Linked DNA regions of Homo sapiens. The protein of the gene in region 2 purifies or fractionates together with the protein of the main gene of each other region. This does not show direct contact. Each region holds a gene or a part of one and is shown on either strand. Other genes may lie near its edges. The genes, in order: FLG, NPHP1, CEP164, TNS1, ZNF282, INVS and ZNF746.

Region 1 (3,616 bases), on a different chromosome or scaffold from region 2:
CACGGATCCCGCCACCAGCAGTCAGCAGACAGCTCCAGACACTCAGGCATTCCGCGCAGACAAGCTTCATCTGCAGTCAGAGACAGTGGACACTGGGGGTCCAGTGGTAGTCAGGCCAGTGATAGTGAGGGACATTCAGAGGAGTCAGACACACAGTCAGTGTCAGGCCATGGACAGGATGGGCCCCATCAGCAGAGCCACCAAGAGTCCGCACGTGACTGGTCAGGGGGAAGGTCTGGACGTTCAGGGTCTTTCATCTACCAGGTGAGCACTCATGAACAGTCTGAGTCTGCCCATGGGCGGACCAGGACCAGCACTGGACGAAGACAAGGATCCCACCACGAGCAGGCACGAGACAGCTCCAGGCACTCAGCGTCCCAAGAGGGTCAGGACACCATTCGTGCACACCCGGGGTCAAGGAGAGGAGGAAGGCAGGGATCCCACCATGAGCAATCGGTAGATAGATCTGGACACTCAGGGTCCCATCACAGCCACACCACATCCCAGGGAAGGTCTGATGCCTCCCATGGGCAGTCAGGATCCAGAAGTGCAAGCAGACAAACTCGTAAGGACAAACAATCAGGAGACGGCTCCAGGCACTCAGGGTCACGTCACCATGAAGCTGCCTCTTGGGCTGACAGCTCTAGACACTCACAGGTGGGACAGGAACAATCATCGGGGTCCAGGACAAGCAGGCACCAGGGATCCAGTGTTAGCCAGGACAGTGACAGTGAGAGACACTCAGACGACTCCGAGAGGTTGTCTGGGTCTGCTTCCAGAAACCATCATGGATCTTCTCGGGAGCAGTCAAGAGATGGCTCCAGACACCCTGGGTTCCATCAAGAAGACAGAGCCAGTCACGGGCACTCTGCAGACAGCTCCAGACAATCAGGCACTCATCACACAGAGTCTTCCTCTCATGGACAGGCTGTGTCATCCCATGAACAGGCAAGATCAAGTCCAGGAGAAAGACATGGATCCCGCCACCAGCAGTCAGCAGACAGCTCCAGACACTCAGGCATTGGGCACAGACAAGCTTCATCTGCAGTCAGAGACAGTGGACACCGAGGGTCCAGTGGTAGTCAGGTCACTAACAGTGAGGGACATTCAGAAGACTCAGACACACAGTCAGTGTCAGCCCACGGACAAGCTGGGCCCCATCAGCAGAGCCACAAAGAGTCCGCACGTGGCCAGTCAGGGGAAAGCTCTGGACGTTCAAGGTCTTTCCTCTACCAGGTGAGCTCTCATGAACAGTCTGAGTCCACACACGGACAGACTGCACCCAGCACTGGAGGAAGACAAGGATCCCGCCATGAGCAGGCACGAAACAGCTCTAGGCACTCAGCATCCCAAGACGGTCAGGACACCATTCGTGGACACCCGGGGTCAAGCAGAGGAGGAAGGCAGGGATCCTACCACGAGCAATCAGTAGATAGGTCTGGACACTCAGGGTACCATCACAGCCACACCACACCCCAGGGAAGGTCTGATGCCTCCCATGGGCAGTCAGGACCCAGAAGTGCAAGCAGGCAAACAAGAAATGAGGAACAATCAGGAGACGGCTCCAGGCACTCAGGGTCACGTCACCATGAACCTTCCACTCGGGCCGGCAGCTCTAGACACTCACAGGTGGGCCAGGGAGAATCAGCGGGGTCCAAGACAAGCAGGCGCCAGGGATCCAGTGTTAGTCAGGACAGGGACAGTGAGGGACACTCAGAAGACTCTGAGAGGCGGTCTGAGTCGGCTTCCAGAAACCATTATGGATCTGCTCGGGAGCAGTCAAGACATGGCTCCAGGAACCCCAGGTCCCATCAAGAAGATAGAGCCAGTCATGGGCACTCTGCAGAGAGCTCCAGACAATCAGGCACTCGTCATGCAGAGACTTCCTCTGGTGGACAGGCTGCATCATCCCAGGAACAGGCAAGGTCAAGTCCAGGAGAAAGACATGGATCCCGCCACCAGCAGTCAGCAGACAGCTCCACAGACTCAGGCACTGGGCGCAGACAAGATTCATCTGTAGTCGGAGACAGTGGAAACCGAGGGTCCAGTGGTAGCCAGGCCAGTGACAGCGAGGGACACTCAGAAGAGTCAGACACACAGTCAGTGTCAGCCCACGGACAGGCTGGGCCCCATCAGCAGAGCCACCAAGAGTCCACACGTGGCCAGTCAGGGGAAAGGTCTGGACGTTCAGGGTCTTTCCTCTACCAGGTGAGCACTCATGAACAGTCTGAGTCCGCCCATGGACGCACAGGGCCCAGCACTGGAGGAAGACAAAGATCCCGCCACGAGCAGGCACGAGACAGCTCCAGGCACTCAGCGTCCCAAGAGGGTCAGGACACCATTCGTGGACACCCAGGGTCAAGCAGAGGAGGAAGGCAGGGATCCCACTATGAGCAATCGGTAGATAGTTCTGGACACTCAGGGTCTCATCACAGCCACACCACGTCCCAGGAAAGGTCTGATGTCTCCCGTGGGCAGTCAGGATCCAGAAGTGTCAGCAGACAAACACGTAATGAGAAACAATCAGGAGACGGCTCCAGGCACTCAGGGTCGCGTCACCATGAAGCTTCCTCTCGGGCCGACAGCTCTAGACACTCGCAGGTGGGCCAGGGACAATCATCAGGGCCCAGGACAAGCAGGAACCAGGGATCCAGTGTTAGCCAGGACAGTGACAGTCAGGGACACTCAGAAGACTCTGAGAGGTGGTCTGGGTCTGCTTCCAGAAACCATCTTGGATCTGCTTGGGAGCAGTCAAGAGATGGCTCCAGACACCCTGGGTCCCATCACGAAGACAGAGCCGGTCACGGGCACTCTGCAGACAGCTCCAGACAATCAGGCACTCGTCACACAGAGTCTTCCTCTCGTGGACAGGCTGCGTCATCCCATGAACAGGCAAGATCAAGTGCAGGAGAAAGACATGGATCCCACCACCAGCTCCAGTCAGCAGACAGCTCCAGACACTCAGGCATTGGGCATGGACAAGCTTCATCTGCAGTCAGAGACAGTGGACACCGAGGGTACAGTGGTAGTCAGGCCAGTGACAGTGAGGGACATTCAGAAGACTCAGACACACAGTCAGTGTCAGCACAGGGAAAAGCTGGGCCCCATCAGCAGAGCCACAAAGAGTCCGCACGTGGCCAGTCAGGGGAAAGCTCTGGACGTTCAGGGTCTTTCCTCTACCAGGTGAGCACTCATGAACAGTCTGAGTCCACCCATGGACAGTCTGCGCCCAGCACTGGAGGAAGACAAGGATCCCATTATGATCAGGCACAAGACAGCTCCAGGCACTCAGCATCCCAAGAGGGTCAGGACACCATTCGTGGACACCCGGGGCCAAGCAGAGGAGGAAGACAGGGGTCCCACCAAGAGCAATCGGTAGATAGGTCTGGACACTCAGGGTCTCATCACAGCCACACCACATCCCAGGGAAGGTCTGATGCCTCCCGTGGGCAGTCAGGATCCAGAAGTGCAAGCAGAAAAACATATGACAAGGAACAATCAGGAGATGGCTCTAGGCACTCAGGGTCGCATCATCATGAAGCTTCCTCTTGGGCCGACAGCTCTAGACACTCACTGGTGGGCCAGGGACAATCATCAGGGCCCAGGACAAGCAGGC
Region 2 (3,616 bases):
ATATCAGATATTTAAGGCTAAAAGTAATTTACTATTTAAGAAAGGACATTTCATAATGATAAAAGAAAGGGTCGATTCAGTAGGAAAAAAAATCTTCCTAAATGAGTATACATTTAATAATATGGGTTCAAATGTATAAAGCAAAAGTTGCCAGAACTAAAACAGAGCTAGATAATTCACAATCCTTAACCACCGTGATCTAATTACATGTATAGTCAAGCCTTTCTTAGTGATAGGGATATGTTCTGAGAAATGAGTCATTAAGTGATTTCATCATTGTACAAACATCATAGAATGTACTTGCACAAACCTAGAAGGTGTAGGTTACCATACACTTGGGTTATATAGTTATAGTATAGCATGTTGCTCCTAGGCTACAAACCTGTACAGCATGTTACTGTGCTGAATACTGTACACAATTGTAACACAATGGTGTATTTGTGTATCTAAACATATCCAAAAATAGGAAATGTACAGTAAAAATATGGTATTATATGTATGGGGCCATCATTGTATATGTGGCCCATTGTTGACTGAAACATTGTTGTGCAGCACATGACTATATATGTGTAGAACACAGCACCTAAGTATGTATTATGTAAATACATATTCTTTTCAGTGCATCTGTAACATTAACCAAAATGAACCATATTGGACCATAAAGTAATTGTCACCAAATTTCAAGAGTTTGAAATTATGTAGAATATATATATATTTTCTTTGATGACTTGGAATGACATTAAAACCCAATGACAGAAAAATAATTAGAAATCACTGCATGTGGCCAGGTGCGGTGGCTCACGCCTGTGCTGAGGCGGGCGAATCACGAGGTCAAGAGATAGAGACCATCTGGCCAACATGGTGAAACCCCATCTCTACTAAAAATACAAAAATGAGCTGGGCATGGTGGTGCATGCCTGTAGTCCCAGCTACTCGGGAGTCGGAGGCAGGAGAATCGCTTGAACCCGGGAGGTGGAGATTGCAGTGAGCCAAGATCATACCACTGCACTCCAGCCTGGTGACAGAATGAGACACCGTCTCAAAAAAAAAAAAAAAGAAAAAGAAAAAGAAAAGAAATTACTACATGTTTGCAAATTGTCACACACTTCTATATAAACTGTGAGTCAAAGAAAATATAACAGTGGCAATTAGAAAATATTTGGAATGATAATAAAATGACTGGGTTGCAACCAGCATAGTGCTTAAAGGGAAAATTTCTATCTTTTGTTTGTTTGTTTTGGAGACAGGGTCTCCGTTACCCAGACTGGGTATAGTGGTGCAATCTTGGCTCACTGCAACGTCCACCTCCCAGGCTCTAGTGATCCTCTCCACCTCCGCCTCCCTGAGTAGCTGAGACTACAGGCGTGTGCCACTACGCTTGGCAAATTTTTTAAATTTTTTGTAGAGGCAGGGTCTCACTATATTGCTCAGGCTGGTCTTGAACTCATGGGCTTATGCAATCCTCCCACCTCAGCCTCCCAAAGTTCTGGGATTACAGGTGTGAGCCGCCACACCTGGCCAGAAATTTATATCTTTAAATGTATAGTTTGAAAAAAAAGTTGAAAATCAATTACTAAAACATCCAACTTTAGGGGCCAGAAAAAGGACAACAAACCCAAGGAGAGCAGGAAAGAAATAATAAAAATAAAAGCAGAAAACAGTGAACAATAAACAGACATACAGTAGGCAATATCAACAAAGCCAAACTGGTTTTTGGAAAATTAATTAAATGGATAAGCTGCTAGCATTACTGATCAAGAAAAGAGAGAGAGAAAAAAAATCAATACAGATTCCACAAGCATTAAAAAGATACTATGAAAAGACTATGAACAACTTGTGTGAATAAGTTTGAAATTTAGATAAAATTAGTTTCTTTAAAAAGAAAATGTACTAAAATTGACACAAGATGAACAGAAAATCTTAAAAGTTCTACTAAAATATTTACTAAAGAAGTTGAATCTGTAATTAAAAGCCTTTCCACAGATTAAACTCTCAGGTGGCTTTACTGGTGAATTTATTGTAAACATTTAAGAAAGAAATAGTGCCAATATTAAAAAATCATTCCAGAGAACAAAGAAGAAACACTTTCAAATCATTTTATAAGCTTTCAATAACACTGATATCAAAACATGACAAGAACACTAGAAGAAAATTGCAAGGCCCTCATGAACACATGCACAAACTCAGTATAAAATATTAGCAAGTAAAATCTAGAGGCATTTCAAAAGGGTAATACATCATGACCAAGTGGAATTTGTTCCAGAGTGTGAGGTTGGCTTAACATTAAAAAATCAATCATTGAAATTCACTACATTAATGAAGGGGAAAAACCGTTATCAAGTTCACATTATTTTCGGCAACATTTTAGAATAATTGACCCATATAAAATATGTGCAAAATATCTCCTAAAGAAGGAAAGAGACGCGTTGAAAATCAATATGACATTTTATGGATTTTTTAGTCTTGTGGTATAAAAATGGTTGTTACATCCCTGTTTATGTTTTAGATCATTGTGGTATAAGAGTGTCCTACCATTATTTTAAACAAAGTTCAGCTAATATTCCTTTTTATTCCAGAGAAAATCTTGTAGTTGACTAGTTTTATAGTTAATGATGTTCATTTGCATTAGTCTAAGTATTGTTTTCCCATTTTAAAGATAAGCTTCTCTCATGTAAGCTTTAGGAGGGCAAAGATCTTGGTTTTGTTCATTGTTATAGCCCAAGCACATAGTGTCTGTCACACAGTAGGTGCTCCCCAAAATTTAAACTTTGCTGAATGTTGAATGAGTAAATAAAATTCAGAAAGATTTAGTGACGTGCCCAAGCTAACATTATTTTGGCATTTCTCTCTTCCTCACCCTCAGATTCACCTCCTTTCTCTTCATCCCTATGCTGTTTTCTTAGTTCATAGTGTTGTCACTTCTCACTTTCAACAGCCACCCTCACCTTTAGCCTTTCTTCTAATCTGTTCCCCACATTATACCTTTGTCTCCTTTCTAAAGTGGGAATCATATCATGTCCTTCCCCTACTCATTTTTAGGGGCGACTTTAAAGGTAAAGCTCACCTGGGCTACATTCCGCGTACCTCTTTTCAGCCTCAACTCTCACTCATTTTCCTTAAGCCTTGCCCTACCATTCATGAGCTACTTGATGTTTCCTAATCTTAAATCTCCTTTCTCCTCTCCCTGCCCTTCCTTTCTACTCCCATTTTACCTGATTAATTCCATATCATCTCTCAAGACCTAATTATAGCCTTTTATGATTCCCATTCGTGCAACCTGGGTTAGGTGTCCCTCTTGTGTGATTGATTTCTTAGTATCCTGTGTATACCTCTACTCTAGTACCTATTGCACTATTTTATAATTCTCCATTTTCTAGATTGTCTCACTGCAAGCTCCTTGAGGATGGGGAATCATGTCTGGTTTACCTTTGTGTCCACTGTGTATCTCTCTGACACGGAACTTGACCTACAGCATCAGTGTCATCATCATAACTGACTTTTATGGAAAGCTTGCTATGGGCAAGCACTGTTCTAAACACTTTGCAAGTAGTAACTCATCTTAATCCTCATGACAATCTTAGAAGGCAGGTTCTATTATTATCTCCACTTTACCAAT
Region 3 (3,616 bases), on a different chromosome or scaffold from region 2:
GCCTTTTGGACCTGTCCTTGCCCACATCTTTTCTAGAGCCTGATAAGGTAAGGAAAGAAGGTAGAATACAACCCACCCATATTTTAATTTTTTTCTGGCAGAACATTTATTTGAATTTGGATGATCCATGAATTCAGATTTCCCAGAGTTTTCCTGATCTTTAAGTAGTTAAATATATCGCCAGGTGCGGTGGCTCCTGCCTGTAATTCCAGCACTTTGGGAGGCCAGGGCCGGTGGATCACCTGAGATCAGGAGTTTGAGACCAGCCTGGCCAATGTGGTGAAATCTAATCTCTACTAAAAATCCAGAGATTAGCCAGGCATGGTGGGGGTGCCTGTAATCCCAGCTACTCGGGCAGCTGAGGCAAGAGACTAGCTTGAACCTGGGAGACAGAGGTTGCAGTGAACCAAGATCGTGCCACTGCACTCCAGCCTGGGTGACAGACTGAGACTTCGTTTCAAAAAAAAAAAAAAAAAAAGGTAAATATAGATCATTATGTATATAGCAAATTAGTCTTGTTGCCATGTGGACAGAGACTACCTGTCCTGTGCTTGCTGGAGATGGGATGCATCTAGGGGATGACATTTCTCAAATGCAGAATTTCTCAAATTCTCTGAGGTAGTTAAGATAGTACCTCGTATAGAGCACATGCTTGGGAAGTGCTTATTCACCCTAATGTTCAGGCCACCATTGGGCCCTCCCTGCCCGTGGATCCTTTCCTTTTTTCTTCTCCTCTCCCTAAGAGGATTAAAGATTCAGGTGACTCTGTAAGCCACCAGGCAGTGGGCCCCATCTGCCACCCGGGTTCCTGGTCCTTTTCTGCTCAGCTTTTTAGTCAGCAGTGGTCAGGCCTGCGTCGCCTCTGACTGTGTGTGTAGCACAGTGGGGCATCATGTCTGCAGGATGTTACGGGTTCTTCTGAGGGTTGGGAGCACATTCCCACTTCAGCTTATGTACTGTTGAAAGAAGCCCTTTTCCTTTGGTGTTTTCTTCCTGCTTGGAGGTGGCATGGTGGGAATGAGGGGCAGAAGCTGGCTCCCTTCAGGTTCAGTGCACTGACAAAGGGAACCATGTCTTGTGAGTCCTAAGGCAGGACTCCTCTGTTGCCCACCCGTTAGCTGTCATGGTACAGAGGGGGGCCATAGTAAACAATCCCTGATGGATCCTTTGTTGCTTGTCAGGGGTCTCTAGGAACCTTGGAATAGGTTCAGAGTCTCCAGATCCAGCCATTTCCTTTCTAGGCCAGATCTTGACTTTTTTTTTTTTTTTTTTCAACCAGGAGAAATAACTTTATTTGGACTGAGAGCTGGAGAATGAGAATAGGACCTGAGAGTATATTGGGCTAAGGAGGAGAGGTAAGGTTCCAAAACGGCGGTCAAAGCTCATCGACTAAACGGACTCTACTTCCCACCAAACTTGCAGTTAGTGCAACCAACAAAAGGCCTGCTGGGGAATGTATTTGCCACTAAATTCCCCAAGTATGCCAACATTACAAAAAAGATAGAGGTTTCTAATCATAATTAAATTTCCACAAACCTCCCCAATCACAAGTATTATAAGCAGAAGTAAAAAAAAATCACATTTTACAGATCTCAAACTTGTCTTCAATATTTAGTTCATCATCTTCAAAAAAATAGCTCCCCTGCTAAACTCATTAGCTATCTGATCTATCCAAGCAGCAAGAAGATGGCCAGGCCATGGCAATCCTCTTCCCATTTTCCCTATCCATTCAGGGCTCAACAGCAGGGTGAGGCTCAGGTTGGGGGTGGGGTGGGGGGAGCACAAGGGCTACTTTCCCCCAGTACAACATGGCTTCTGAAGCTTGATGGGAGAGCAGAACTGGTGAGACTTGAGGGAAGGGTCCAGGGCCTGTATTCAGTCAGAATCGCTGCTGGAAGAGGAGGAGAAAGAGGAGGAGGAATGCTTGCCATGCTTTTGGTGCTTGTGCATCTTTTTATGAGCTTTCTTCATTTTATTCTGCATCTTCTTGTCCGCTGTCACTGCTGGTCTGACCATGCCAGGAGCCAAGAGATTCACAGGAGGGATTCCAGGGGCAGGCGGTGGGTATGGAGGAAGGTGGGGACCCGAGGATTGGCATCCTGGATACCCTGGCTGTGGTACAGGATGAGGGGCCCCACCTGGGAGGAAAGCTGGATTGCCCTGGGGAACTCCTAGGGGAGGAGGACAGGGGCCTGGGGGAAAGGGTGGATTGATAGGTGGTGGGTGGGCAGGATTGGAACCTCCAGGGCACCCAGTGTTGGGGGATATGGATTTGGCCCTGGCTGTCTGGCATTGGGATTCCACATGTTTAGGTGTGTCCTCCAGCCTTTCCACGGCTGCCTGGGCTTGATGCGTTCTACCAGATCCTGATGTTTTTAATGGCTGGGCCTTTCTGCTTGAAGAGGGCCGTTTCATCCTTGCTGCTCCAGGAGGAACAGTGGCAGCTTCTGAGGAAGTGGGGACTGGAGAGGTCAGGACTTGTGGCTCCAGACTCCTGTTGGTCACATTTGGTGTGGCCAACTGCTCTGCAGGTTGGGGAGGTGCTCTGAGCAGGTCTGTGTGTGGCAGCAGTTTCCCAGGCGACTTCCTTCATCAGGCTGCAGCATGGGAGCTGCCATGGGGAGAGTTGGTGGGAACTGGGGTCCTGAGGTAGGGGTGGGAAGAGAGGAGCAATTCTAGAAGTGCACCAGCTTCTCAGTTGAAGAATTTGGCACCGCCCCATCCCTGGAGCTAGAAACCTTGGATTCAAGCTGGACTTCTGTCTTCGCTTGGGCTGCCGTAACACAATACCGTAGACTGGGGGGCTCCAACAACAGAAATCTCTTTTCTCATAGTTCTGGAAGCTAGAAGGCCCATATCAAAGTCTGTTGCTGGTTCCTGTCTTGCAGACAGCTGCCTTCTTGCTGTGTCCTCAGATGGTAGAGAGAGACCTCTAAGCCACTAGACAGTGGGCCCCATCTGCTGCCCTGGTTCCTGGTCCTTTCTTCCTCTCCTTTTAATCCTATCAGGCCATTTAACCTTAATGACCTCATTTAACTTTAATTACCTCCTAAAGAACCAGTCACATTGTGGATTAGGGCTTCAATATGTGTATTTTTCTTACTTTGAGAGGCTGAGGCGGGAGCATTGCTTGCACCCAGGAGTTCAAGACCAGCCAGGGCAACATAGTGAGACACCATCTCTGTAAAAAAAAAAAAAAGTAAAATATATACATATGTGAATTTTGAAGGGATGTAGCTCCTTTCCACTTTTCCCCCATATCCTGGTCCTATTAAGCTTAACATCACTGGGTCTGTTCTGACTGTCTCTTCTTCATTCCCCTGCTTCTGCCCTAGTTAAAGTCCTTATCATCTCGCCCCTGGGCAGCAGCCTCCTCAGGTGGTTTTCCTGACACCAGTCTCTCATTTCTCCAATCCAGCCATGCCAGTCTTGCCAGAATTCTTGTCCTAAAAAAAGGCCACCCTGTGATACTTTGTTTCACCAGAGCCCTCAGTGACTCCCCTCTGGTGTAGGACAGGGTGGAGGCTCTTTAGCACGGTCTGCAAGGCTCACTGTGACCAGCCGGTCACACATGTTGGTATCCCCACTCTGGAACACCTGTCTGTGCAAGATGCTC
Region 4 (2,468 bases), about 110 Mb from region 2:
TGTCTCCCTAACTCAACTGCTTTGCAAGGGGAAATCAAGCTGGGAGAATCTTTTTCTGGCCACCTGTGGGGTAGGTTGTCAAACCAAACAGAGCCACCGTGGGACATCAAGTGGAAGAACTTGTTTGCTTGAAAGTATCTCAGACCCAAGGCACCTCAGGTCTCTTTGCTGTGCCTCCACTATATTGTCGTGTGGGTGTGTGTCTGCACCCACATCCTCACACATTGATCTAGATCTGCCTTTATCCACTCGAATTATAAACAGCTCGGCTTGTCCTTGTCCCATGTGTTTGTAGACACACATGCATACTGTCCAAAGATTAGGGTTGGTGGTGGCAGTGCAGCAGGGGAGGGACAAACAACCAAGCTATGGGTGACAGAGGCTCTCTCCTGGTGCCTGCACCTGCACTCTAGTGACCCTGGGTGCCGCCAGACCCTTCTCTTCTACAAAGACCCCAGCAGGAGTGGGAGGGTCTGCAATGGCATCGCCCTGTCCTGCCTTGGCCAGAAGCCTGGAGCTTTGGTTTGAGGAGGTAGAGATATGTGTATCCATAGGAAGAGATCTGTCAGAACAGGCAGCTGTTGAGCTCGGGGTGTCTTCCCCAAGGCATGTGGCTCAGCAGCAAGAAAGGCAAGTTGCTCCTGCTGGGGCCCTGGACTCTGCCTTAGCTCCCACCTCTCAGCCTTGTTATTGGGTTTCATGCCCCTGGACCAGCCTTATCTCAGACCTGCTTACCTGCATGATGCCTTTTTGGGGGCTGGGGATTGAGTCTTGCTGCTCTGCCCAGCCCTGTTCTATTCTGCAGGGTCCCTGTGTTGGAATTCTCCCTGGGGAACCTACTTTCTGCTCAGTGAGGCTCCGGCCAGAAACCTGGAGTCCTTATCCTCCCCTCTGTAAGTGTTTTAGGGTCTGGCTTTTGCAGGCACCCTCTGACCTCAGCAGAGCTCCTGGGCCTGCTGCCTGCACACCACATCGCCTACCTACAATGCCAAAGCCTCACTGTCACCCTTTCTGCCTTGGTTTCCCTAGCTGAGCCACGCTGCCCATGCAGCAGAGGGCAGAAGGCTTGCACTTGGGCCAAAGGGCCTAAGGTCCACTGGACAGTTGGGAAAACACCTGACCACCATTTAAGGACTCTAAGCCAGAATGGAAAATTCACCAGGACTCCATTCTTAAGCCTATGCGAGTCCCCTAGAGAGAGGCATTGTACTGATATATAAATATTATATAATATATACATGAGACATACTGACAGAATCTGTAAGCTAATAAAATGTAAGAAAAGGTTAAAAAAAGAATAGGTAAATTGACAAGAAGTATTTATTGTTTTTCCATATTGCTTTATTGCCTTCCTTGGGGATAAACCAATTCCTATCCTTTTTTATATGTGTAAGTAAAGCCTGAAGTGTAGGGGGCCTTTGTTCTTGAAGCAGCCAGGGTCTCCTTGCCCTGGCCTTGGCCTTCCCTAGACTGTGTGGGGCTCAGCATTGGGAGGGGTTGCACATGTCCCAGCCTTTGGCCCCCTTACTTTTCAGCAAGCCAGGGGCCCAGCAGTCAGCTCCCAGGATGTGTGGGGAGCTGTCCCTGACTCTGCAGGCCTGAGCGAGTGTGTGAGCATGCGGGGACATGGGTGTGTATGGCACACATAGGTGCGTGTGTGTCTTTTGTATTTTTTCTCCTCCAAGGAGCTGTGTCAGTGTGGACGTTCTGTTTCAGGGAGTTGGAAAGGAGGGTGTCTGCAGAAGGTGGAGAGCAGGGGCAGAGGCCCCACTGGCCACCCCCTGCTTCCCAGAGTGAAACCTTGTGCCTGGTGACCAAAGTCCCTCCAAAGTGCTCTTCCTTCTGGGTTATTCAAGCCAAATATCTGGGTTTCCCCCTCTCCTCATTCCCTAGCAAACCCCAATTATCTTCCAAGATAGGAGATATTTCCCATCCCCTTCCTTTGTAAATATCTCATCTCCCACTGGAGAGCCCAGGAGCCTATTCCTGGCATGGATGTTCTGTCCACACTTGAGGCTGGGCGGTGTATCAGACCCTTCAAGCAGCCTGGCTGGGGCCCAGGACTGAGTCTGGGGTCAGCTTTCACGGTCGCTTTTCCCTTCCTCACCACCCACCACAGCCCACCTTGCATGCATGGCCAGCCCCTCCACTCCAGCCTGAGCCATGTGTGCCCCTGCGGGAGGACCCATTCATGCCAGAAAGCTGGTAACTCCCTCCCAGCATCCCTGCGGAAGGAGTCAGTTTCTGAGAGTGTGACTTTTCAAGGCGAATGATGGGGAAGGGTTCCCCAGTCCCCACAGTGGCCCCACCTCTGGGCCCTGCACCAGAGCCCTTCTGTGTCACGGCGGGCTGTGCACCCATGCACACACCTACGCACACACAACACTCCGCACTGCAGTATATTCTTGCCAAAGATTTCCTTTAAAAGCAAGCACTTTTACTAATTATTATTTTGTAAATGTTTATCT
Region 5 (3,616 bases), on a different chromosome or scaffold from region 2:
GATTGTGTCACCGCACTCCAGCCTGGGCTACAGAGGGAGACTTCATCTCAAAAAAAAAAAAAGAGGGCCGGGCGCGGTGGCTCACGCCTGTAATCCCAGCACTTTGAAAGGCCGAGGAGGGCGAATCATGAGGTCAGGAGATCGAGAGCATCCTGGCTAACACGGTGAAACCGTGTCTCTACTAAAAACACAAAAAATTAGCCGGGCGTGGTGGCGGGCGCCTGTAGTCAGTCCCAGCTACTCGGGAGGCTGAGGCAGGAGGATGGCGTGAACCCGGGAGGCGGAGCTTGCAGTGAGCCGAGATTGTGCCACTGCACTCCAGCCTGGGAGACAGATTCCGTCTCAAAAAAAAAAAAGAAACCCCACACCCACAAGCAGTCCTTCCCTGCTCTCTTTTACCACCCCCCGCCCCTGGGAACCACTAATCGACTGTCCATATCTATGAATTTGCCTGTCCTGGGCATTTCCTCTAAATGGCTCCTTCCCTGTCTTCATCAAGGACTGCAGAAGTTTAAGGTCAGCAGCGGTAGTAACAGCACCTAGTCTTATGGGGTAGATTTTTACATTTGAAGCACTGTAATCTCAACAGTTTCAGTTGGTTATCAAACCATCACTGAGCATGAGATAGAACAGGGATCACTGTGTCCTTTTTGTAGATGAAAAGGGTAGACCGGAACCCAGAGAGGCTAAATGACTCATCCACTGAGTTGGTGCGGAGTTGAAGGCAGGATCCCAGTCTTCAGATTCTTTGTCTTCTCTCTTTCCTGGTGCCTGAGCCTCCTCTTGCAGCAGGGGGCGCCATCAGAAGAAAAGGCCCTGTTTGTTGCATGCTGGGCTTCTGTGTAGAGGCTATGTCCTTGTCTTTTATGCACAGTGAGTCCTCACTTAATGTCATTGATAGGGTCTCGGAAACTGTGGCTTTAAAGTGACATATAACACAACCAATTTTTCTTTCTCATCAATGTTATAACTAAACATCATAGAAGGAAATGATGTTATTTGAGGATCTGCTATGTGTCATTTCACTTGAACTCACTGTTTCCAAGAACCTGCTGACGACAGTGAGACTGGCTGTATAAGGAGGTTCTGCACTATCTGTCCAACAATAGAGCTTAGTTGTGCCTTTTTGCCCATCCCCGCTTCTCACAAATCATATATATACACGTGTGTGTGCATCTGGCCTCAACCTGGCCAGCTCTTTCTGACTGGGGTGACTAACAAGGACTAATGACTCCCACAGAGAGGTCCAACTTGTGGCCCAGTCCTGATTAGGACCCAGCCAGTTACACAGCTCTAGGTTGTTTCTGAATTCTCTCTTCAGTGTCATCACCCCTCATTTTGCTGCTTGCCTAGCCCTTTTTCTTGAATGTTGGCTTCCTCTCTGCTCCTGAGACCTTCTGCTCCTCAGGGTCCCCCATGGTTCCAATAGGAACCCGAGACCCCTGTCTTCTCCCCTGGCAAGTGCTGTCAGCCATGCTTCTGAGCCCAGAATGTCCTGGTGACCAGCATGCAGAAAAAAAGACACAAAGCAATGTCATTCTCTGTTCCCAGGAGCAGAGCTCCTGGTGCCTGCAGAAAAAAAGACACAAAGCAATGTCATTCTCTGTCCCCAGGAGCAGAGCCCCTGGTGCCTGCGCAGGATGCGTCCTCCCAGGTGAAGCGTGAGGACACCCTGTGTGTCCGGGGTCAGCGGGGCCTGGAGGAAAGAGCCATCCCTACGGAATCCATTACCGGTGAGTGAGCCAAGCAGCCGTCCACACCAGGGAGGGGAGGGGAGGGGAGAGGGTTAGCATGGTCTGCCAGCCCCCAGAGTTAGCTGTCACATGTGCCAGGCCAGAGGGCTGAGCTCGAAATGGAAGGGCTGTGCATCCAGGGCTGGGCTGAGCCAGGATTCCTCCAGGAGACACAGACGTGGCAAACAGCATTGACAATTTGCTGGTACACCTGGGCTCAGCGTGTTCTGTTTCCTCTCTTCCTCATATTATCCGTTTGTAACTATTCCATCTTCCCCTTTAGAAACAATATCCTGGCAGAAGTACTAAGTGTAAGGCTTCATGGGTGGGGGAACAGGGAGGTCAGGAAGACCTGTTGTGCCCTGACCAGGAAGGCCTTTCATTGTTTTAAACAAGTATTTATGGGCTGCTACCTCTGTGCCAGGCACCTACATACCTGCGGTCCTGTGAGGGACCTCCTCTTAGCTGGCATTGCAGCTGGACTCTGTCGTAGGTGAGAGCTCTGTTATAGCAGATGTATGTATCAATCAGAGTTCTCCAGAGAAACAGGACCTGTAAGGGTGTGTGTGGAAAAGAGAGATTTATTTTATTTTAAGGAATTGGCTTGTGATTGTGGAGGCCGGCAAGTCCAAAATTTACAGGGCAGGCCAGCAGGTTAGAGCCCCAGGGAATTGCTGATGTGGCTGCTGGAGCCTGCAGGCAGAATTCCCTTTTCCTTGGGGGAGGCCAGTCTTTTCCCTTAGGCCTTCAGCTGGTTGATGAGGCCCGCCCACATCATAGAGGGCAATCTGCTTGACTCAAGTCTACTGACTTACATGTTCAAATCTCATCTAAAAATATACCTTCATAGAAACAGCTAAATAATGTTTGACCAAATATCTGGGTACCGTGGCCGAGCCAAGTTGACACATAAAATCAACAATCATGAGACATATTAACATACTGTAGCCCTTTACTTATCCACAGGTTAGAGCTCCACAAACCTCATCCCCCCCTTAGTCAGAGCCTCACACCCATAGGTAAGTGCTCATAGTGTCTGGGTAGAGGAAAGCCCGTTCACTTGTCATCAGGCATGACCCTTGAAAGCATCACAGTATTAGGATCTTTAAGGAGATCTTTAAGAGATAAGAAGGCAATAAGGTGTAAATTAGGTTTCAGAGACTCTGTAGAAGAAAGAGAGTATAGGGTCTTTTTCTTACATCTTAGAAAAATCCCATTCAAAAGATTTAAAGGCTTCTTGTAACATTACTTTATACCCCATAAATATATACAACTATAATTTGTCAATATATAATTTAAAAAAAGAGGCTTTCTGGAAGTTTTCATCTTTCCAGAGGAAATACCTCTTTCTGTGGTGGTCTCAGCACCAGAATGGGAACCTCATTCTAAGGAGATTTAAGTTCCTGCAGCACAGAAAGGCTCTTTCTTAAAGACTGTAATGTTACTCCCCTGCAGCATCCTCTTATTTGCAGCAAAAGCTCCGTTAATTGGGGCCAAGCTGACTTCAACCTTTAGTTAATGAGACTTATGTAATTGTACCTGATGTTTAGGGGAAAGAGATAATTGCATGAAATCAGAGATTTACTCAAAACACAAACTTGCAGGAGATTTCGCATCTTCTAACACCTTTGCCGCTCTTGTTCCCGCAAGTAGACTCCCCAATTTCTGCCCAGGACCTCTTGTCCCGGATTAAACAGGAGGAGCATCAGTGCGTGTGGGATCAGCAGGATTTGGCAGACAGAGATATTCCCACGGATCCCAATTCAGGTGAGAACAAGGTCAGAATGAATCTTGAGGGCAACAAGTGTTTTTCAAAAGGAATCATTAAATTAATAATTTATTGTGTTTATGCAGCTGATACTAAAATTACTTCAGCACTGATT
Region 6 (2,333 bases), on a different chromosome or scaffold from region 2:
TGTTGGTTGGCCCTGTAGAGTTATTCTCAGTTGGCACTGGGGTAAAGATCATGAGACACTAGAATGGCAAGAGGGAGAGGCAAGGGTGAAGGGATGGTTGGTGGTGAAATTTCATTAGTCTCTAGCATGTGCAGGAGGGAACAGACTTAACAAGAAACCATTAGCATTTGAGGATATAACTAGGAATTTTCACTGCCTGTGGTAATGCCCAATTAATAGTTCCCTGTTTCCTGGAAGACTTCCTATGGTAATTTACAGATGGGGATACAGTTGCCAAAGCTCTGGGAAATTGTGTTTGGGTGTGAAAAATACTGTCAGGTAGCATAGTGATTTGGGTGCAGTTCTCAGATTACTCTTGTTTTTCTCTCCAGACATTGAAGAGTGGAAGTGTTCAGGAACAGTGGCTCACAGACTTACATTACTGCTTCAACGTGTATATCACTGGGCATCCCCAAGGGCCCAGTGCACTGGCTACAGTGTATTGAAGAGGCCATAGTACCTCCTGTTTGAAGTTGTTTATTCACATCTATCTTATTTGAAGAAAAAGACTGATGTAATAGATCTTTGTCATTAAAGCTGAACTTTTAAAGAAGTTTACGAACCTTCTTTCTTTGCACTGATATATGAAAATAATGTTTGGGCGTTCCTATTGATGTGTAGGCTGGCTTCCCGGACTAGCACACGATACATGGTCATAGGCGGTTGTGCATTGTGCATTTCATAGGAGCTAAATATTTACAAAATAGAGAGTGATACTGTGGTACCTTCTGTTATATACCAAGAAACTGGCTAAATCTTTGTAATTCCATCCAGGCAGACCTCCTTCTTTGTGTTTTTGTGATCACAAAAACGATGAATGTAATAATTAGTAAACTAAAAACCAAGGTAATTAAGTGAACACTTCATTGCCTATCTGTCTATCTCTTACCGTTAGCACAGAAGTGGCACTGATCTGAAGAAAATGAAAGCAACCCCCAAAATACCTGTGAGTAAAATATATCACTGTTTATGCCTACTGTCAATATTCTCACAGCAGCTTTCCCCTTAAACAATGTGAAAGAGCCCATCATCACTGGATTTTATTTAAACCAGGTGTTCTTAGAATGCTAGGATGTGTGCCGTTTCATTCTTCCCTGCCAACAGAAATGGCATTTTAAGAAGATTGCTCACTTCTGCAAGTTGGTCAGAAAATACAAGTAGAACGTTGACGCCTGAGTTAGCACCTTGCTGCATGAACAGTCTGGTCTGTAAACCCTACCTGACAGAATCCTTGATACTGTAATACGGCTGTTGGTATTCAGCACTGAGAAAGCCATTCAGTGAAGACGTGGCGGCAACTTGTGGCCTTGAGAGGCTAACGTAGGAACTGTAAAATGTAAGGAATCACCAGAATGTATCTATGGTCTTTTGGACAATTTCTAAATGAAAACAGTGGGCAATGATTCTGATCTAAAATTTAAACCTGATTAATTTTGAAGTAATAGTGGGACGTGATATGTGTGTGTGTGTGTGTGTGTGTGTGTGTGTGTGTGTGTGATAAGTTTGTTGCATTAGATGCCAGGAAAGTAGTGAGAGGAAGGCTGCTATGGGACAGGCTTCCTATCTCATTTAGGTTCATCTCTTGAAACAAGAAGCCAGTACCAGCTAGCTGGCAGAAATCCCAACCCAGCAGCCGTAGTTTTCCTTAGATTTTGCTGTTAATTATGAATTCTCATTTCCAACTGTACAGACTGAGGTGAAAGCAGACACTCAGGCACTTTGCACAGACATAGTCTATGCAGGTCCTTTCAGTGCAGGCTGTGTTGATTGACAAAACAATGCTGTGTAAGAGCAGAAAGGAAACATTCTGACATTTTCTTTCAGTTAACACATTTTTAGGTGAATCAGCCTTCAGGTACGGATATTAAAGTTTTCCCAAGGTGTAAAAGATTATCAGCAGAAAATCTGAACTCTGCACTAGCTATGCCAGCTCCCCCGAACACAGTCTTCCTCCATAGGCAGTCAAGGTTTTGTTTTGTTTTTTGGCTGAGTAGCTGATTGCAGGTTATAAGAAAAGTTCTTTGATCTTCCACTGTTCTCAAGGAGATGTATACACTGTAGGTTGCTCACTGTTAAAAACAAATACCAGATAGATATTAAGGTTATTAATTTTAAGGCTGAAGGGAATAGTTCATTGGTGTTGAGGAAGAAGGATTTCGGTTTAGGCTATCCCTGGGATGATGGGCCAGTTTACTGTAGAGGCAGGATGACTTAATATAATAGCTTTATATTTCCTGCAGTCTCAAGATATGGGACATCTCTTCAAGGGAGACTTGATTAAGAGAGAGCAGGCA
Region 7 (3,616 bases), on a different chromosome or scaffold from region 2:
GGGAGGTTCTGGGTGGGTGGGTTTCGTTGTATTTACACCATGTGTGGAGGCTTCCCTCACTTCCACAGCATCATTCAATGAGAGTAAAGAGGGGCTGGAAATACGCTGGTTGCTGGTAAGACCCTGTAACACTCTCTAGCTGCACCGTATGATGTTCAGCAGCATCCGTGGCCTCTACCCACCAGTAGACAAGATGAGTAGACACAAACTCCACTGTCCATCCTGAGCCTGTTGGCAGGGATCTGTGTGGCGTTTATCCCTGTCCCCTTTGTCTGAGAAGCCAGGACTCCCAGCTCATCCCTTGCCACATTTGGCCTGACCCATCCCCTTGTGAGACCTCACCTCCCCTTCTCCTCACCTCCTGCACATCCCTCCACTGAGCCTTGTGGGACTCAGGGCTCAGCAGACCCGCCAGGTCCTGAGTGTTCCCTGCTCGGACTGAGCTCCAGGGGACTGCAGCCCTCTGAGTGCTTGTCATCCTCTTCCCTGCCTCTGTCTTGAGCCCAGGCCCACTGGGACAGGGTCCTCACCCCTCAGATTGTGCCTCTGCCAGCCTCAATCCCTCTCTAGAGACCTTGCCTTTGGGTCCCAGGCCTTGTCTTTTTGCTACTTCTGCAGACCTTCCCTCTCTTCTCAACACTCTTCCTGCCCTCAGTCTTGGCCATGGCAGCCTCCTTGTTGATTGTCCTGTGCCCCCCCAACCCATCCCACAGCCATCCGTGACTGTGACGACAGTGACTTTACCATACCCACCATCTCCATCTCCAGCACACCACTCCCTGGCCGCCTCCTGCCGTCCCTTCAATTCCGTCTGGTGTCCTGATTCCAGCAGTTTTCCAGTCCTTCAAGACCTGCAAGCCATCGACCCTGCTGCCTTTTCACTGCCCTGACTCATCCTCATTTCCCTCCATGCCCACCATTGTGGTCCCCCCTTACACACACCCTCAGCACTCTTGCCCCTGTTTTGTTCATTGTATCCACTTAGTGAAATCCATCGGTGTTCTGCACCTGCAGCCAAGCAGCTGCACGTGGCTGCAGAGAACCAGGTAAGCTGGCTGCTGGTGTCACGTGACATTCATGACCAGCGACTTCAGTGGGCGCTCTGCCACACAGTCACACCGTGTCTCCTTAGCCCAGGGGCCAGCAAACTGTGGCTGAGGGCCAAACCTAGCTCATCTGTTTCTGTATGGTGCACAGCTGAGAACAGTTTTATATTTTAACCCGTTTTTTAAAAGAGAAACGCACCACTCACACAGCCCTCTCCACGCCATCTGCCTGCACCAGTGCCCCCTTCTCTGCCTTCACTTCTGTGACTGCTAAACTGTCAACCCTCCAGCCAAAGCCCCACTTCGATCTGGCACCAGATCCCACCTCATGCCATCTTCTCAAGGGCAATACAAGCAATCCTGCCTTGACCTCTACCCCGGCAGCCACTGCCCGCTTGTCTGTTCCCCTTTGTGGCAGAGCCCTTGGGGACATCTGCGCTTGCTGTCTCCTGCACCTTCCCCCCCACTCTGTTACCCCTTCCACCAAAACCTCTCCAACCTCGGTTACCAGGGCCCTCCGTGGTCCTGAATGGTCTGTCTTCTTACTTGGCCTTGTCCCCTCTACTCTGCCACGTAGGCCCGTCATCTCCTGCCAGCCCCTCTCCTCCTGCCCTGATCCCCCAGTCTTGCCTCAGCCCAGCAGAGTAATCCCTTTTAGACCCAAGTCCTGGCTTTCCATCTGACCCGCACCGTCAGCTCACCACCTCCACTTTTCTCTCACTCTGCCCAGCTGCAGAGTGCTGTTCCCTGGTGCTGTTCCCTCCGCCCTGTGCCAGGGCCTTCGCAGTGCCCTCTACTGGGAATCCTCCTCAGGCAGGTCCCACCTGCAGGCCTTTCGTGTCATCGGCACTGCAGGCCCTCCCCACCCAGGACTCCAGGCCTACTTTCCTGCTTTGGGTCTTCCGTGTTAGACAGTGTCACATAATATATATGTTTCCTATTTATAGATTCATCGTATGTCAGGTCTCCTCCATTAGAATGTCAATTTCAAAAGTATAAAAATTTTTACCTGTTTAATCATTTTAGGAACCTAGAGTATTGCCTAGTACAGAGTAGGAATTCAATAACTATTTGCTGAATGTATGCTGTTTCAAAATTTAAAACGTGTGTGTGTGTGTGTGTGTGTGTGTGTGTGTGTGTGTGTGAAATAATGTATTTCTGATAGCATTTAAATTCCTTTTTAGGTCTCCCAGGCCTCCCTAGGAATTTTCTGTTTATTCTTTCTATCCACATTTTAAAACGTCTGCTGTGTACTTTGGTAGCTGTAAACAATATATAATACGGTTTTTTGTGTTCTGAAAAATTACATAGATGTCATTATATTTATCACTCATTATTCTGTATTTCAGACTTATCCATGTTGATACATGTAGATCAAGTTCATTCCTTTTAACAGATGCTTAATATTCCAGAAGCAACTATATTGTAACTTATTTTCCATTCCTCCACTGATTGGCACTTAAGCTTTTTCTGATTGTTCACTCTCACAAGCAATACTGTAGTGAGCGTTCTTGCGCCTGTTTTTTTGTGGCCCTGTGGGGATGCTGCTCCAGGGAGTAGACCCAGCGGTGGCCTCACCACGTCGTAGGCTTGATTTCATCTCTTCCGTTACTGTATGGCCCTCCCCAGGGGTACCCAGTGCCAGCGGGTGCTCCTAGAACTTGCTTCCTAACGTCTGCCCAGTTTCCATAATTACATTTTTGCCGACCTGATGGGGGTGAGATGGCCTCTCGTTTCAACTTGTATTTTCCCCCTTAAGTTGCACGCCCTTTTTATACGATTATTTGGCTGCTTCTCCAGTGAGTTGTCTTCTGTTTTTCTATTGAGATATTCTTCATTTTCTTCTTGATTCAGGGCTTCTTTGTATGTGTTCTAGATACAAATCCTTTGTCTATTATTTGTGTTACAAACATTTTCTCCGTGTCGGTGGCAGGTCTTTAACGTTGTAGTTCTTGTATGGAAGTTTTCACTGTTGAAAGAGTCAAACATGTCAGTCTTTTCCTTTATGATCTGTGCTTTTTCTGTAGTGAGATATCCTTGCTTACCTCACTCAAGGTCAGAAAGATACTCTTCTCTATTTTTTTTATAAATTTTTAAAAGTTTTGCTTTTCAAATTTAAGTCTTTAATTTATCTAGAATTAAAATTTGTGTAGCTTGCAAGGGAGGGTTTCAGTTTTTTCTCCCACAACGATGGTCTCATTTTCCAACAAAGTTTGCTGAATGTGTTAGCTTTTCTCCACTGATTTGTGATGCGATTCTGTCCTGAGCTGGTTTCTGCATGTGCACAAGTCTGTTTCTGGGTGCTTGCTTCTGTGTCATTGGTCTCTTTGTCAGTCTCTGCACCAACAGCTTGCTCTTTTAGCTTCATAATAAGCCTTGATATCTAGTAGACTAATCCTTCTCTGCTTGTTCTTCAAAAAACTGTCTTGGCTATTCTTGGATATTTGTTCTTTTATATGAATTTTGGGATCTGTATGTCAAGTTCCTAAGAAAATCCTGTTGGAAATTTGATTGGAATTGCATTGACTTTACAGTCTAATTTCTGGAGAATTGCTCTCATGACAACATTA

What was found.
Region 1: the proteins of NPHP1 (region 2) and FLG purify together in Homo sapiens (affinity purification with mass spectrometry; one large-scale study listed by BioGRID and IntAct). This does not show direct contact.
Region 3: the proteins of NPHP1 (region 2) and CEP164 purify together in Homo sapiens (affinity purification with western blotting, with the first as the bait; one study listed by BioGRID). This does not show direct contact.
Region 4: the proteins of NPHP1 (region 2) and TNS1 purify together in Homo sapiens (affinity purification with western blotting, with the first as the bait; one study listed by BioGRID). This does not show direct contact.
Region 5: the proteins of NPHP1 (region 2) and ZNF282 purify together in Homo sapiens (affinity purification with mass spectrometry; one large-scale study listed by BioGRID and IntAct). This does not show direct contact.
Region 6: the proteins of NPHP1 (region 2) and INVS purify together in Homo sapiens (affinity purification with western blotting; one study listed by BioGRID). This does not show direct contact.
Region 7: the proteins of NPHP1 (region 2) and ZNF746 purify together in Homo sapiens (affinity purification with mass spectrometry; one large-scale study listed by BioGRID and IntAct). This does not show direct contact.

The regions. Positions count from the first base shown.
Region 1 is NC_000001.11:152,308,174-152,311,789, reverse strand, and holds part of FLG (filaggrin), read left to right. Parts: coding exon 1-3,616.
Region 2 is NC_000002.12:110,170,403-110,174,018, reverse strand, and holds part of NPHP1 (nephrocystin-1), read left to right. Parts: intron 1-3,616. UniProt on the Homo sapiens protein: Together with BCAR1 it may play a role in the control of epithelial cell polarity. Involved in the organization of apical junctions in kidney cells together with NPHP4 and RPGRIP1L/NPHP8. Does not seem to be strictly required for ciliogenesis.
Region 3 is NC_000011.10:117,334,326-117,337,941, forward strand, and holds part of CEP164 (centrosomal protein of 164 kDa), read left to right. Parts: intron 1-308; exon of another isoform or gene 309-479; intron 480-1,279; 5' UTR 1,280-1,355; intron 1,356-3,616. UniProt on the Homo sapiens protein: Plays a role in microtubule organization and/or maintenance for the formation of primary cilia (PC), a microtubule-based structure that protrudes from the surface of epithelial cells. Plays a critical role in G2/M checkpoint and nuclear divisions.
Region 4 is NC_000002.12:217,801,609-217,804,076, reverse strand, and holds part of TNS1 (tensin-1), read left to right. Parts: 3' UTR 1-2,468.
Region 5 is NC_000007.14:149,208,972-149,212,587, forward strand, and holds part of ZNF282 (zinc finger protein 282), read left to right. Parts: intron 1-1,613; coding exon 1,614-1,733; intron 1,734-3,383; coding exon of another isoform or gene 3,384-3,386; coding exon 3,387-3,500; intron 3,501-3,616.
Region 6 is NC_000009.12:100,300,343-100,302,675, reverse strand, and holds the end of INVS (inversin), read right to left. Parts: intron 2,109-2,333; coding exon 2,002-2,108; 3' UTR 501-2,001; downstream 1-500. Other genes in the region: TEX10 (testis-expressed protein 10), read left to right, coding at 372-485. UniProt on the Homo sapiens protein: Required for normal renal development and establishment of left-right axis. Probably acts as a molecular switch between different Wnt signaling pathways.
Region 7 is NC_000007.14:149,487,809-149,491,424, reverse strand, and holds part of ZNF746 (zinc finger protein 746), read left to right. Parts: intron 1-3,616.